2 separate regions of the Homo sapiens genome follow, and region 2 is linked to region 1. Evidence: fine-mapped expression QTL. Tissue or cell type: activated CD8 T cells. Region 1 holds a variant in brackets; the other region holds the start of a gene. All regions are shown on one strand. Distances are from middle to middle.

Region 1 (8,178 bases):
TTGTGGACACAGTGGTCCCTCCTTAATGATGAAGATCACTGCCTTGGGCTTCATGGAAAACAGGCCCAGCCTGGGGCTGCGTTTGGATTTATTGTTTTTATTCCACACTTCCTACTTGGTCTCTGGAAGTTTTACCACATGTAACAGATTCCTTTATATGTAGTGGAAATCACTATTTGTAGAAACTGTCAGGTCAAAATATTTAACTGACTGTTGACATGTATTTTCTTTTTTCCTTGTTTTTGTTTTTTGGGGTTTTCTGCTTTAAGATATATACCACTATGTATATCCAGTTAACTGAGAGAATTTTGACTCTCTTAATAAAACTGCATTAAGTTTTTGATTTTGTAGAAATTAGCTTTTGTCTAGGCAACTAGTGGTTATACTCTGCAAATATTGTAATGAATTTTTACTTTTTTGATTTTTGTAATAAAAATTGGTGCAGATAAAATGTCAAATGAACAAACCAGTGTTCTAAGAGTGTTACTAACATTTTGTTCTAAAACTGTCCTTCACAAATTGAATAAAAAACTCTCACACTCAGTGTGTCCCTGGGGTTTCTCTCTGGGCTTGGGGGCCGGCGGGGTGTGGATATCTGTGGAAGGAATGGGAAGGGAAGAGAAGTTTACTATTGTTTCATTTTGCTTATAAGATTTTACTTGACTCTTCTGACACTCTTCATACGGTGTTTTTTCTATTTTTGAGTTTCTACTCTAGTTTTATGGGCACCGTTGGTACTGAACCTCTGTGGAGGAAGGATGAATTGCATGTCAGTTCAGTATTGTGCCTGGGTGCTTATTTTCATAAAAGACAGCAACCATAATGTTCTAAACTTCTTTGGTTTTAGCAACTGTTAATTAATGTAAGCCTTTTAGGAATATGAATTACAGTTATAAATAGCACCAATATAGCCATTCTGGCATGCCTACATATGCAATTTAAAACATTCACTGCATCATGCATATTCTTGTAAAAACTTAATAGACCACAATGAGGGAGCATTATGCTTTGGAAGTTTTGCAAAAATTACAGTGAGAACAGGAAGAGAATGCATGGCGCTGTCCAGGCCACCGCCTCCCATCCTATGGCAGACACTAGTAATCAAGCTTAGAACTGAGATTTGGCCTCAGACTGATCCAAGAAGCCACCCACACTACTGAGTTTTTAAGAGAGATGAAACTTGATGCCATCCCGTTTGGACTGTTTTCTAAGGTATTCCAGATGTTCTATAGTGACTTAATTATTTGCTGAAAAACGTTGTGAATCTCTGAAAACACAGTAAACATACTTTTGATTAGTCTTGAATTTTTGGACAGAAGATGACTGCTTAGGAACAAAAATGTTGCATAGAACCTAGAGTAGGGCAACATCCACACTTGAGTGGATGATTGAAGTAGTTTGTCATATTCTAGTTTAGAGTCATTTACACCAGTATATTCAGTTCTTATTTAGTGATACATAAGGAAATGGTGATGATGGAATTGCTTTCATGCCTGGAATTTGCTTCAAACCATAAAAATATGAGTGGAGCCCATGATCCCTGGTGAGTGGAGACAAGGATCAAACACAACTGGTGCAGGCCGATGTTAAATCTGGGTGGTGGGTATGTGAAGGTGCGTTAGTCTGTGTATTTTGTATTTATTTGAGACAAGTTTTTTGGGGTTTTTTTTTTCAGGACTTGAAGAAAAAATGCTCTATTAAAAAATATGGTTGTCATTTTAACATTGAGAATAAGCTTAGGTATTTCTGTGTCCACCAGAATTGACGTTTATACTGACTGCAAGAATAGCTCACTGAGTCTTAGCCTTTTTGGCCTGCAGATACTTTCCCATGCATGCATTCTCTTGTACTAGTAGAAACAATTGGAAAATGAAATAAAGCCCATTTACAGTGACACCCAAACCATGGCATACCTATGAAAATATCTTAACAAAAGATGTTCAAGACCTCTACACTGAAAACTATAAAACATTACTCAGAGATAGAATACCTAAATAAATTTTTGGTTGAAGTATGTGGAGAAAATCTGGCCTTACACAGATAGGTAATTGGAAAAAGGGATATTTGAATCGTCTTTGCAGTTAATTGTGAGTACTTGATACCATGCCCAAACTCTGTAGTGGTCGTGGGGCAGGAGAATAGGAAGTTAGGGTAACCAAGGGCTAAGGCATAAGCAAAAGAACAGCAGGTACAGCCAGTTCTAGGCAAGATTAGGCAGCACTCAGACCACAGCCTCCTACCTGTGATAACAAGACAGTCTCCACTTCAGCCTCTGATTGGTTGCAGGCTAATCTTTCATAGGGTGCAGCCAATTGGAGGCCTCTAAAGGTCACCTAGGGGTGTTACCAAATTCTTTTAGCTTAGTAAAAACCCTAGAGGGGGCACTCTTGACCCTGGCTCAAGTTGGCTCCCACTCTGGAGGGTACTTTTGCTACAATAAATCTGCGCTTTTTTTGCTTCTTTCGTTGTTTACTTCTTTTGTTGCTTTGTGTGTTTGGTTCCATTCTTTATTCAGCTGCACCAGGAACCTGGACAACTCGCAGTCAAGACCTTCCATTCAGTAACAGTAGTTTCTTAAAGGCTAGTTGCAATGTTGAATCAGGATCCACATCAGTGAGCTTCTTGTATCGTTCCTGTAGAGTCCATCTTTCACTTAGAATGGACCTTTAACCCATGCATAATTTTTTATGCATTACTTGGGAAATATTTTTTAATTGAGTTCTGCAAGTCTTTCAAATGTTGAAACTTTTCATTAATATTAAAACATTGATAACCAGCCAGGTGCGGTGGCTCACGCCCGTAATCCCAGCACTTTGGGAGGCCGAGGCAGGTGGATCATGAGGTCAGGAGATAGAGACCATGCTGGCTAACAAGGTGAAACCCCATCTCTACTAAAAATACAAAAAAAAAAAAATAGCTGGGTGTGGTGGCACGCACCTGTAATCCCAGCTACTTGGGAGGCTGAGGCAGGAGAATCGCTTGAACCTGGGAGGCAGAGGTTGCAGTGAGCCGAGATCACGCCACTGCATTCCAACCTGGGCAACAGAGCAAGACTCTGTCTCAAAAAAATAAAACATTGATCACCAATAATCTCATGAAAGTCAAAAGTTGGAAGTTGTCAAGCTCATGGTACTGGATACAAGTTTTACAACATCCTGATTTTTGCTGAAAAACTCAAATTTTATCATTGGACACAAATACTGTCAGTTTT[CCTTG/G]AAGTAGAAGACTCACTTGGTTAATTTTTTGGTTTTTTTAAATTGAGACGGGGTCTCACTCTGTCGCACAAGCTGGAGTGCAGTGATGCGATTTTGGCTCCTTACAGCCTTGACTTCCTGGGCTCAAGGGATCCTCCTGACTCAGCCTTGGAGGTAGCTGGGACTCCAGTCGTGCACCACCATGCCCGGCAATTTTTTTTTTTTTTGGGGGGATGGGGTCTCACTATTTTACCCAGGTTGTCTCAAACTCCTGACCTCAAGCAATCCGCCCACTTTGGCCTCCTAAAGTGCGGGGATTACAGGCTTGAGCCACTGCATTACAACCTGGTTATTTTTTTTTTAATCACATAGCTTGTCAATCATTATTTCAAATGAAAATGACGTTTCTGAAAAAGTCACTGGATACACTTATCGCACAATCAGCCAGAGCCGTGCTTTTCCTGGAGACAGCTGTACACAACAAATCCTTCATGCACACTTCCCTTTACATCACAGAGAACGTGTGCTGTCAAAATTTACTCATGTTTACAGCATTGAGGGCATTCTTAAGTGAAATTGGGTTTTTTTCTTTTTTTTGACTGCACGGCAGTGAAGAATATGAAGGTGATCAGGCCGGGGCAGTTTTTGCTAAGGTGCTAGTAGCTTTACCCACCATTTCTTTTGAACCCTCAGTGCCGAAGTCAACACTGAAAAAGGCAAATCACATCTCGGTAATGAGACCGTTTTGATTTTGGGGACCCCCTGAAATGGGGTCCTGGGGACCCTGGGGTTCTGCAGGCCACAGTGAGAGAACTGCTGGAATGTTTTGAATGATGAGATCTAAGCAACTAGTGATAAATACTGGAAAATGTAGACTGGGTATTCATTGAATTACCCTTTTTGACTTTTCCATAGGTTGGATTTTCGGGGTTTTATTAAGGAGAAGAAAACGGGAGAATAATTTGGAGACAGAACATGGGAAACATTGAAGAGTTTCCCGGAAAGGGGGAGCCAAGAAACAGGCAGCGGGTGGAAGGGAGGAGCCCTCGGGAGGGCGGGAACCGGGGGCGGGGCGCCGGCGCGGGTGCAGGGACGAACCATCAGGAGGGCGGGAACCGGGAGAGAGGCGCAGGGGCGGGGAGAGGGGGGTGAGCCGGGCGGTTCTGGCGCGGCTCTGCTTGGGGAACCGCAGCCAAGGTTGGGGCGAGGCCGTGGTTGGGATGGGCCGGGGCGGGTGAGGGGTCCCGGGGCGGTGGGAGGGTAGCGGGGGCTGCGGCAGGGCACGGCTGGAGCTGGGGGCTGGAGGTGGACACCACCCCAAGAGTCTGCACTGAGCAACGGTAACAGTGAGCCCGGGCACAGCTGCAGCCAGGGAGACCCTGAGTGTGCGAGTGTGCGTGTGAGGATGTGTATCAGTGTTTGCAAATGCATGTGAGTGAGCGAGCATGAGGATGTGTGTCCATGTATGGATGTGAGTGTGCAAATGTGTGCGAGGACTGGGAGTGTGTGAGAGCGTGTCAGTGTGGGAATGTAGGGGGAATGTGGAGGGAAGTGTGTCGTTGGCAATGTGTGAGTGTGCAAATGTGTGAGAATGTGAAGGGAAGCGTTGAGTATTGGATGTGAGTGGTAATCTGGTGTGTGTGAATGTGTGAATGTTTATGTGTGAATGTACGTGATGTGTGTGGATGTGTATGATGTGTGCGCACGTATGAATGTTGATTTGTGTGACGTGTGTGCAGATGTGTATGAATGTGTGATGCATGTGGATGTGTGTAAATGTGGCTGCTGTGCATGTGTGAATGCTATATGTGTGTGACGTTTGTGACTGTGTGTGTGCAGGTGTGACTGTTTTATATGTGTGGCTGATGTGCATGGGTGGTAGTGTATGTGAAACATGTTATATGTGTGCATGTGTGAACGTGTGTGGCTATTGTGCACGTGTGGATGTGTGTGAATGTTGCATGTGGGTGTTGTGTCGAGGTGTGGGCATGTGTGTGAATGTGACTTGTGTATCTGGATGTGTGTGAATGCAGGTGTGTGAATGTGTCACTTGTACATGTGTGGATGAATGTGCGTGTGTGAATGTTATGTGTGTGTGACTTGTGTGGGTGTGGATGTGTGTGAATGTATGCATGTGTGTGAATGTCGTGTGACGTGTGTGTGTGAATATATGTGTGACTTGTGTGGGTGTGAATATATGCATGTGTGTGAATGTCTTGTGTGTGATGTGCGATGTGGAGAATGGATGGAAGAGCAGGCGCTTGGCGAGGGGGGAGGGAGGAGGATCAGAGGCCATGGGAGAGGGCGGAGGGAGCGTAGGAGAGGCCATGGGGGAGGGGAGGGGCGGAGAGGCCACTGGGGAGGAGAGGCCGGGGTCGGGGGCGCCTGCCCACCGTGAAGAGGCCCCTGAGGGCAGCTCGGCCTCCTGTTGGGGGCCAGGGTCGGCTCTGGCGGGAAGGCCCAGGCAGTGCAGAATCATGGAGCTCAGGGGCCCTGCTGGGGTCCGCTCAGGAGCCTAGGGTCCTTAGAGAGGTCTCAGGAAATGGGCAGGGGGAGATGGGGCTGGAAAGGGGACATGTGGACAGAATGGGGTCGGAATCGGAGTCTCCCGGGCAGGAATCGCTGGGAAGGTGGACATCTCAAGCCCTGGAGAAGCTTCCAGTCCGCGGAAAGGGGAGAGGACTGGAGCTCCTGGGTGTCTGGGGCAGGACGTGGATGGGGTCACATTTTTCTCTGTTGGGAATAGCACGTGCGAGGCGTGGGCTCGGGCTTTGAAGGTTTGCAGGGTGGGGAAGGGAGGCCGGTGAAGCTCTGAAACCATCCCCGAGGGGACTCTGAGTGACCACTTTGTGGTCAATCCGCAGGGAGAGCTGAGGACGAGGCGGAGGCCCCACAGGTGAGGGCCAGGTGAAAAGCCCTACAGCTGCTGTGTTGTCGAGCCCCGTGGCCAGGCGGGGCGGGGGGCCATGGGTCCCCCAATTCTCTGGGCATTCAGCAGAAAAACCGGCAGGGCTCAGCCAGGGAAGCTGAACTAGAAGTTTCTAACCTGTGCAAGCAGAGCCACACAGGTCAAGAGGACTCTGGGAGGTCCCAGGGCTCAGGGAGGGGCTGCGGGAAGTGCAGGCTTGGGAAAGGGGTCTCCACCTGGAGTTCAGGCCTCATCCCAGTAATGGTCACAGCCACCAGATGACCAAGTGCCCCAGTACCTGGGCAGGCAGGTCCACAGTGCAGCAAAGAGGGATGTGCCTCTTGGGCAAAGTCTGGCAGAGGCTGAGGGGTGGGTACTCGCCCAGTACCTGTGCTGGAAGGTCACCTTGAAGGGGTCCCCAGGCCATGACCAGGGCTGCAGTGTCCCCAGGGTTAGAGCTGGTCAGTGCAGAACTGGGCATCCCCCTCAAAACACAGCACTGACAGCAGCAGCAGAGCGTTGAGCTGTGAGGCAGGACGTCCCACCCGGGGAGGGGCCCCTTCCTTGGGCTCACGTTCTCAGGAGATCACAGTGCAGTGTCAGCCAGGGCTGCAGTCTCATCTGAAAGCTCCCCTGGAGCCTCTGCATCCAAGCTCACGCACATGGCTGGTGACTGGACCCAGTTCCCCCCGGGTCGCTGAACTAAGGGCCTGAGTTCTTTGATGGTTGTTGGCCTAAGGCCACCCCAGCTCCGTGCAGGGGAGGGCAGGGGCCTCTCCACCAGGCACTCTGAGGAGTGCTCACCCCCCGCAGGGAGAGGCGGGAGGGACGGGGAAGGGCAGAGGACACATCAGGTTTTTCATCTTACTGCGTTTTTTTTAAAACAGGAAGATCTGAAGCCAACTACATTCAGCAAGTTTTCTTAAGAACAAAGTAAGAAAGATAAACCAGAACAGCCCTGCTTGGCTTATCCCGGCCTCGCCTTAACCCTCCCTTCCCTGCCGTCTTTCTGTGGCTCCCCTCTGCCAGGTGCCCCCTGAACTTTAAGATTCCAGGATGGTTTGAGAACAACTTCGATGTTTCTGTTTTCCCATTTATGAAGGCTACTGTGCTCTCACCAGTGAATTTAATTACAAGATTTTTAGAAGCAGCTAAAAAAATTGCAACTCAGATGCATCAGTGAATCAGTCCTATTCCCTGTCTGCTAAAGGATGTCTTTTCGTTACCATCATCTGCCGCAGGGCTTTTCTGACAGTTCATATAATTCAAGATAATTGAAGCCAATTTTGCAAGCAAAACGACAGGAACCACTACATGAAATAGCACATCAAGTCTCTGATTCACAACAATGGCACTATTTCCTCAATGGTTTTAAAATTCTCTTGGCTAGGCGTAGTGGCTCACGCCTGTAATCCCAGCACTTTGGGAGGCCGGGGCGGGCAGGTTGTTTGAGCTCAGGGGTTCAAGACCAGCCTGGGCAACAACGTGAGACCCTGTCTCTACAAAAAATACAAAAATTAGCTGGGCTTGGTGGCGCATGCCTGTAGTCCCAGCTACTTGGGAGACTGAGGTGTATCAATTGAGAAAAATGACAAGACAAGTCTCAATCATTTTAGGAGGTTTACTCGCCAAAGTTAAGGACGAACACTCGGGAGACAGTCTGTACCTTTCTCCGAAGATGATTTTGAGGGCTCCAAATTTAAAGGGGAAAGGGTGAGATAATGACAAGTACACAATTTTCATCTAAGAGGCGGGTAGAGAAAAATAGTCATGCGTTTGGCTCATTGAATCTGCATTATTTTTACACAAGATGACTTAGACAAAGGGGGCAGGGGAACAATCAGGTTTGCATTTGTGTCTGGCGGGCAGGGGTTGACTGCACCTGTAAAGATGAGCTATCGATTTGCATTGCTGTGGTGAAATCTTAACAGAAACACCTTACAGTAAAGATTGCGGAGCTCACTAGGAATTTCCTTGTGGACAAAATATAGGGGAGGTGTGCAGTTTTTCATCTTGCAGCATCTTATTTAGGGACCAAAAGGGGAGGCAGGTTTGCATGACCCAGTTCCCAGCTTG
Region 2 (8,178 bases), 40 kb before region 1:
AATGGTTTATTAATGAGAGGATGTGAATGAAGTGGCTAAGTTTAAAAAAGTGAACCAGTTTTAAGAAAAAAATATCAATCCTATGTAGATATAAAAGTCCACATATGGCCAGGAGCCATGGCTCACACCTGTAATCCCAGTGCTTTGGGCTTTCGGAGGCCAAAGCAGGAGGATCCCTTGAGCCCAGGAGGTCAAGGGTGCAGTGAGCCATGACTGTACCACTGTACTCCAGCCTGGGTGACAAGAGTGAGATCCTGTCTAAAAAAAAAAAAATCCACATGCAGGTGGTATCTGAATGACAAGTTTTGGAAACTGTTCCTACATCAATTTTTAAGCAGATTTGCCCTCTCAAAAGATGGATTTGCCAGCGTAGTGGATGTGGATAGGAATGGAGAAGGGGCCGAGGAGAAAACAGCAAGGCTTGCAGGCCCACGTTGAGTCCTGAAGGTGTTGTCACAGTGGGCTCCCTGATCTCCATCCTCATAGCCAAGCTGCAAGTCTGACCCGGGTCCCCCCACCCCTCCATCCCAAGTCATCACTCCCTCCCTTAAATGGCACAACAAAACCCCTCATTGGTTCCCAAACTTTTTGAAAGTAAAAAGCCACTCCTTAGCATGGCATGCTTAATATGGAACATCAACTGGGGCCTACCTTGCTCTCCAACCCCACGTCCCTCAGGGCGCACTGCTCCTGGTGTAATAACGACACTCAAGAGATGCCCATCAATGTCTGTCACACGTATGGACACTGAATCACTGTGCCATTCACACAACTGAGCCCTACCCCACTTCCACAATTTCTCATACAATGCAATCCTTTTTTGAAAAAAAAAAAAATTCCAGTCTAAAGGCAATCTTAATATGTTAAGTTTTGAGTTTTCCTGTTTTCTTTCATGGATTTGGATTGTATCTTCAAATGCCTAAGTTGGCTTGTGTATGGTTGCTTCATCAGATGAAAAAGATGTTATGAATCTACTCTTCTTCTCTTTGGAGCTTTTAAAAAATGAGAGTCTCAAAGGAAATCTGAGATTGGTAATGATTGTTACAGGAAAGGGGTCCCAATCCAGACCACAGGAGAGGCAGGGTTCTTGGATCTCACTCAAGAAAGAATTGAGGGTGAGGCCACAGAGTAAAGTGAAAGCAAGTTTATTAGGAAAGTAAAGGAATAAAACAATGGCTACTCCTTAGGCAGAGCAGCCCCGAGGGCTGCTGGTTGCCCATTTTTATGGTTATTTCTTGATTATATGCTAAACAAGGGGTGGATTATTCATGTCTACCATTTTTAGACCACATAGGGTAACTTCCTGATGTTGCCATGGCATTTATAAACTGTCATGGCGCTGGTGGGAGTGTAGCAGTGAGGATGACCAGAGGTCACTCTCGTCACCATCTTGGTTTTGGTGGGTTTTAGCTGGCTTCTTTACTGCAACCTGTTTATCAGCAAGGTCTTCATGACCTGTATCTTGTGCTGACCTCCTATCTCATCCTGTGACTTAGAATGCCTTAACTATCTGGGAATGCAGCCCAATAGGTCTCAGCCTCATCTTACCCAGCCCCATTTAAGATGGAGTAGTTCTAGTTGGAATGCATCTGACAATTATCAGAGTTGAGCAAAATCTGGGTGACCAACCAATTAGATCACTGGCATTGGGAATAGTCAGTAGACACCATCCTATCCACAATCCTCCTGCCACAGTTACAGGATCTGTCTTGGGGATCCATCACCACGTATATATGTCAGTCTACTCCTGTACAGCTAAATAAATATGTATATAGTCTAAATAATCCTTTAAAAAACCCAGTCATCTGAAGTGAGGAAAGACGTACACGAAGTACCCTATCACTATAACCTATTTTATCTTCCTAGCCCTTAATACTCTATGCAAAATAAATTCCAAAGTTAAAAAAAATCTAACAGTGGGTTGGAACCTAGGTCTGGATATTATTCTAAGCTCTGCCACAGGCATGCAGTTTGCCCTTGGACAAATTCCTTGACTTACCACCATCTCTGTTTCACCATTCCCAGAATGCAGCCTAGCAAGTAATCCCTCCCTTTCATTACATGGAGGACAAGATACACTCACGTCCTTTCGCAAAATGGGACACCTCTCTCCTAAGAAAGATGGAAATCAGGGGGATATATTTTAAAGAGATTAGATTAAAATCAACATGGCATGTGAGAAGAAAAATGATTACGTTCTAGAGTAAACAAAACCTGAAATGAGTTTATAGTCTATTCTCACCCTTTTGGTCCAAACAAAAAAGTATTGCTTGATTATTCTTTCCTGCTTCACTAACAGATTACAAACTCCCTGGGAGAAGATAGATTCTATGTGTCATATTTTCCATTCATTAGCAATTGCTCACTGAATTGAAATATTTGCTACTTCCCCACTATAGAGTGTTTCTCAATGTGTTTCATTCAGCATTGTACTCAACAAATGTTTGCTGTATGAAGACATGTCTGTGTTGAGTGTTTACACCACTAGTTAACAACTTCCCTTTGTTAAATCTTAGGTTTCTATTTTTTCGTTTTATTAACCAATGCTGCAATATGCTTTCTCGTGCATCAGTACTTCCCTAGACATCTAATTGCCTTGTTCAATTTGTGACGTAGAATTTTGCAAAAAGGAAGTTTACACAGCGAAAAACTATATATACAAATGAAATAAAATACATGATTTAAAAAGACCGCATATTTAGAAGCAAAGGAAATATTCATAAACATTGTGGTTATTCCTCAATAGTGAAATTACTGATGCTTTCATAATCAGAATAAAATTACATATGTAATAAAGTCCGTGATACTGTCATTCAAAATAGGGGATTTGGTACTCCCTTACATTTATACAGTTCTCAACAAAAAGCCTTTTATTGTTTGCTCTGTCTGGTCTTCTCGCTTATCTCTTAAACTTGCAAACGTATAGTCCTAGCCCACCGCACTCGGTTCCGAAGAAGGCGTCCCTCGGACAAAACCGAGGAATCTGTCCTGCTCTGTAAGGAACTAGGGCTTGCTGATTCCCAGATTTTAACGAGAATCCCTGCTCCCCGTAGGCGCTCCATAAATTTTTACTGGACAACTTCACCGCGCGCTACTGGGCCTCCGGGAGACCCGTGACTCCCACCCGCTCTGGGCGCGGGCCCGCAGAGCCTCAACCCGCGCCCCCGGCAGCCGGGATTCCCCGCCCGGACCGGCTCCCAGGCTGGAAACATCATGGTCCGCACCCGGGGCGCAGCCGAGACCCACCGCGCCGGAGGCCCCGGGACCCGCTCAGACCGCTGCTTGGCCACTCTACGCCCCTGAGCCCCCCACACAGCCAGCCCCGTGACCTCCGAGCCCCGTGACCTCCGAGCCCCGTGACCTCCAAGCCCCGGAAGCCGCTGTAGGCAGCGGCCCAGCCAGGCCCCGCCCCCTCCACCGGAGCTCCACGCGTCAATTCCAGCCAGGCCCCGCCCCCGGCCGCCCCAGGCGTGGACCCAAGCCAGGCCCCGCCCTCTGCCTGGCTACTCCAGGCGCCCACCGCCCCAGGCGTCCTCTAGCCCAAGCCCAATGCCCGGCTGCTCCAGACGTCGACAGCCCCATGCCCCGCCTCCTAATCGGCTGCTGCTGGCGTCCTCTGGTCCAGGCTCCGCTCCCTACCCGGCTGCTCCAGGCATCCTCTAGGCTAGACCCCGCCACCTACCGGCCGCTCCAGGCGTCCGCAGCTCCAAGCCCCGCCCTCCGCCCGGCTGCTCCAGGCGGCCTCCGGCTCAAGCCCCGCCCCCTGCCCGGCGGCTCCAGAGGTCCGCGGCTCCAGGCCCCGACCCCTGCCCGGCTGCACAAGGCGTCCTCTGGGCCAGGCCCCGCCCCCAGCCCGGCCGCTCCAGGCCCCGCCCCGCCCCCTCTGTGCGCGCTCCGCTCGGCAGCCTGTGGGACGCGACCGCGGCGCTAGTCTCGTTCCTTTGTGCTGCGGCGGCGGCTTCTCGAGTCCTCCCCGACGCGTCCTCTAGGCCAGCGAGCCCCGCGCTCTCCGGTGACGGACCATGTCGGCGGCGGGAGCGGGCGCGGGCGTAGAGGCGGGCTTCTCCAGCGAGGAGCTGCTCTCGCTCCGTTTCCCGCTGCACCGCGCCTGCCGCGACGGGGACCTGGCCACGCTCTGCTCGCTGCTGCAGCAGACACCCCACGCCCACCTGGCCTCTGAGGACTCCTTCTATGGCTGGACGCCCGTGCACTGGGCCGCGCATTTCGGCAAGGTGGGTGCGAACGCTTTAAGGCGCCATTTTCCCCGGCTGTCCAGTGGGAGTCGGGGAAAGCGGGTCTGAGGTGCGGGGGACGTGGGGCGTGCCGGGATCGCGGGGCGGAAGCGGGATCGACGGCGCCTGTGCCCCGAGGGGCCTAGGGCGCCTGTGCGGCAGCGCTCGCGGCCCGGAGTCGCGGCGGGGCAGCCGGGGGGCGCGGGGCGGAAGCGAGGTCGGTGGCGCCTGCGTCCGGAGGGGCCTAGGGCGCATGTGCGGCGGCGCGCGTAGCAAGTTTCTAACAAGGCGGGCTCCAAGGGTCCCGGCGCCTGTTGGCCGGATCCTGTGCGAGCGCGCGCGCGCGCGGATGGTGCGGGGCCCTCCAGGCCGGGCCGGAGGCGCGAGCGATTTCGCAGAGCCGGGTATTAGGCCGCGAAGTCGCCCAGGCGGCTTCCGGGGAGCCGAGCTGGGGTCAGAGGCGCGCGGGGAATGCCCGGGCGCGGTCGACCTTCTGGTTCCGCACAGCCTCGCCAGTAGCCGAGGGCCGCGCTGCGGACGAGCTCAGCCGAGGAGCAAGCGCCCCGGCGGGACTGGAAGGCCCCGGCAGCTGTGTGGGATGGAGGCCGGCTCTCCAGCTTCTGGGTTTGCTTTAAGGCTTGTAGCTGGCCCCGCTTCAGCAAAATTAGTGACGGCTGTGTTTATCTTGGATCTAAATTACTGCAGAAGTGGTTAAATTAAGCAGAATTCTCTTCCCGTGGAGGCTTTACGTTCCCCTCTTTTTTCTTAAACTGAAAATTCTGGGGGAACACAGTGCTGCTTTAAGGTTTTAAAAGGTTGGATAGCTACCGTTTCCTCATCTGTGAAGTCGTTGGGGTACTTGCTCTCAGAAATCTTAAATAAGATTTCACCGTGCATTTCAGAAGTGACTGGTTTTAATTAATATTTCTTAATTCACTGAAATTCAGGGATGTGTATAGTGTTTTTCTCGTAAGTGATGAGATGGGGTTAAATGGTTTTGCAGAAATATGTGAGAGGTAATGTGAAATAAGTTACTTTAAGAAGGCCTGGCCCTGGTAATGTCGTTACCAGCTGATGAAGTTGCGGTTTACCTTGCTGCCCCTGGTGCTACATTCACAAAGCAGCTGTGTCTTTTGGAAAGCAGTTTCTGATTCTTTTAAAGTGGAAAAGTCACTTTTCTTTCAATAAAAGAAATGAAAAGGAGTTTTGACGATCGGGGTGGGACAAGCAAGTTAATCAGTCCTCAAGGGCTGTTAGGTTCCTGTGGCACTGTCTCTGAAGTTGTGCAACCGTAGTACCTGCTGGAGAAAACAGGTGCCCAGGGGAAATGAGTTTCTTAACAAACAAAAGTAATAAAGCCTCCTCCCTGCGCTTCTGCGTGCAGCCTTAAATAGATTTCCCGAGGCAGTCAGTAATCTGAGGATTTCCTCCCTCCAGAGTGTCTCTTGCTGTGGTTTATTTTTACACTAAACTTTAGGATTCTGTCCTTTCTACCCTGGTTGAGAACGACACAATACTGGGTGATAGTCAGTGAACAACGATCTGTAGAATGCTTAAAGCCTCATTACAGATGGTCACTTAGAAAATTTAATCCAGTGGTGCCTCCACTTGTCTCTGGGGATTAAAATAGTTACTTTAAAATGGTAATTTTTAATGTGTATTTTATCACAGTTTTTTAAAAAACACCGACTGAAATCACTTTTCAAAAGTCTACTTCCATGGGACTTTGAGTAGTAGCTTTACCTTGGTCATCAAATGTTGTAACAAGAAGCAGTTACTTCATTGTTTCCAGCTGTCTGAATCATAGGGCTCTTTGGTCTTAGATACGGAAGGGGCCTTAGAAAGCCCCTGTCCAGTGTCCAAACATTCCCTTCTGAGAAGAAGCCGTTAGGACAGAAATCAGGCCAGGACTCAGGGCTACCGCTTGCGAAGTCCAGGCTTTCTCCCCAGCCCTGCTAACGGCTGCCCTCTTACACAGGTTTCAGGCTCGTGTTCTTAGAAATGTGCTAGTGGTGCACAAGATCCCCTAACCGTTGGTAAGACTCGTTTGTTGCCAGAGGACTAAACGAGTTGTTTAAAATCTCTGTTGTAGCTTTTATACCATATTGAACAGTATCTTTCCAGAATTCCAAATCCAAGTTTCTAAATTGAACCCAAGGGTAACAGGTTTAAAGCCAGCGAGCCCTGAATAGCTGATTTTTGGTACGCCAAGTGATTTTCATCCGTTTTATTTTTATTGGATTTGCAACCTGTTCATCTTATCGCTAATTAATACTTTCATTTTCACCCAGTGAATTAATAAAGGCAATAAATAGACATCAGCCTTTACTCCCAGGTCCAAGTTGGTTGAAGAGGGTGTTTTGAATCTGTGTACTCTTCATCTCACAGGAGTGTTTACTGAAAGCCTGAAAGTGCTAAGAGAAATGGAAAAAGAAACCTTGAGTTGAGATGGTAGTGTCAGGTGTTTTGTCTTCAGGTGAGGTCTCTCCTCTTGAAGAGAATTGCTTGCAGTCAGGCATAGCTTGTTCCCTAACTGCATTGTGATTGGAGTGAGGGAAAATGAGCAGTCCAGGATCAGAGAACGTGGGTTGAACAGTTGCTTGGCACATGGTAGGCACTTGGTAAATTTGTTGAATGCGCTAAATTATTTTAGCCAGAGGCTATCATGGTATTGGTGCTTGGCCACAAAGTCTTAACTTGCCATGTTAGTCACCCACTAGGTGCATTGCTCAGTTATGCTGTAGGCTTTTTTCCCCCATAGGGTTTTGAAAAGAGTAAAAAAATGTGGAGAATGGGGCCTCTATTGATTATTCAATGAGTATTCAGTGCTGGCTTGTGTAAAAGTGCACAGTTGTGCACACTATAGAAAATAGTCTTTGACTATGACGAGTTTACTATGGCTACACAAAGTTTGTGGGGTTTTTTGTTGTTGTTTTTTGTTTTTTTGAGACAGGGTCTTGCTCTGTTGCCCACGCTGGAGTGCAGCGGCGTGATCTCTGCTCACTGCAACCTCCACCTCCTAGGTTCAAGTGATTCTCCTGTCTCAGCCTTCTGAGTAGCTGGGATTCTAGGTATGCACTACCACACCCAGGTAATTTTTGTAATTTTGTATTTTTGAAACCCCAGTATGGGGTTTCGCCGTGTTGGCCAGGCTGGTCTTGAACCCCTGACCTCAGGTGATCCACCCGCCTTGGCCTCCCAAAGTGCTGGAATTACAGGCATGAGGCACTGCGCCTGGCATTACACAAAGTGGTGGTGGTGGTGTTGGTGTTTGAGATGGAGACTTGCTCTGTTGCCCAGGTTGGAGTGCAGTGGCGTGATCTCAGCCCTCTGCAACCTCCGCCTTCTGGGTTCAAGCAATTCTCCTGCCTCAGCCTCCCAAGTAGCTGGGATTACAGGTGCCCGCCACCACGCCCGGCTAATTTTTTTGTATTTTTAGTAGAGATGGGGTTTCACCATGTTGGCCAGGCTGGTTTCGAATTCCTGACCTCAAGTGATCCACCCGCCTTGGCCTCCCAAAGTGCTAGGATTACAGGCATGAGCCACTGCGCCCGGCCTACACAAAGTTTTTTAACCCACCAATCCCTTTAACGTTTTTGTTTAGAATAGTCTGTGCAACAAACAGTTTTGATAGAAGTCTTGGAACAGCGCAGTCCAATATTTTCTGATTTTGGCTTATTCAATTGTAGGGAAACAAATATTTAAATCTGTATAGTGTTAGTCGTCTTTTTGCATTTTTCTATTTCTATCTACCGTCTTTTTCATAAGGACAAGGGAATATGTTATCTTAAATGTCCTTTAAAATTTGCATGGCATTGGGAAAGAGTGACTTAATCTGTTAAAAAACTGGTAACAATGCCATTTGTCACCATTATAGAATTTCGATTATTCATGTAATATTGAATAGTGTACTGACATGTCTGCGTGTTTTCATTACCCCTCTTGT

Direction of the effects. Alleles are on the strand shown, and positions count from the first base shown. SD is a standard deviation of normalised expression in the study named.
As copies of G replace CCTTG in region 1, the expression in activated CD8 T cells of the gene that starts at base 3,888 in region 2 goes down (moderate effect, 0.72 SD a copy in Schmiedel 2018).

What was found. PIP is the estimated chance that this variant, and not a neighbour inherited with it, causes the effect.
Region 2: ANKRD10 starts here. The variant in region 1 is fine-mapped to the expression of ANKRD10 in activated CD8 T cells (Schmiedel 2018, PIP 0.95).

What each region holds. Positions count from the first base shown.
Region 1 is chr13:110,870,905-110,879,082 of GRCh38, reverse strand. It overlaps ANKRD10 (ankyrin repeat domain 10), which reads left to right. Exons shown (of 6, transcript NM_017664.4): 6 at 1-543. Among named protein-coding and RNA genes, the nearest start is that of PRECSIT, 4.7 kb to the right of the region's middle. RefSeq lists a silencer at 4,195-4,414 and an enhancer at 5,352-6,229. The variant CCTTG/G (reference allele first, on the strand shown) is at 3,212.
Region 2 is chr13:110,910,779-110,918,956 of GRCh38, reverse strand. ANKRD10 (ankyrin repeat domain 10) reads left to right here and starts at 3,888. Exons shown (of 6, transcript NM_017664.4): 1 at 3,888-4,232. The coding sequence starts at 4,023. RefSeq lists silencers at 3,047-3,206, 3,337-3,996, 4,267-4,636 and enhancers at 2,574-3,248, 4,747-4,876, 4,600-5,276.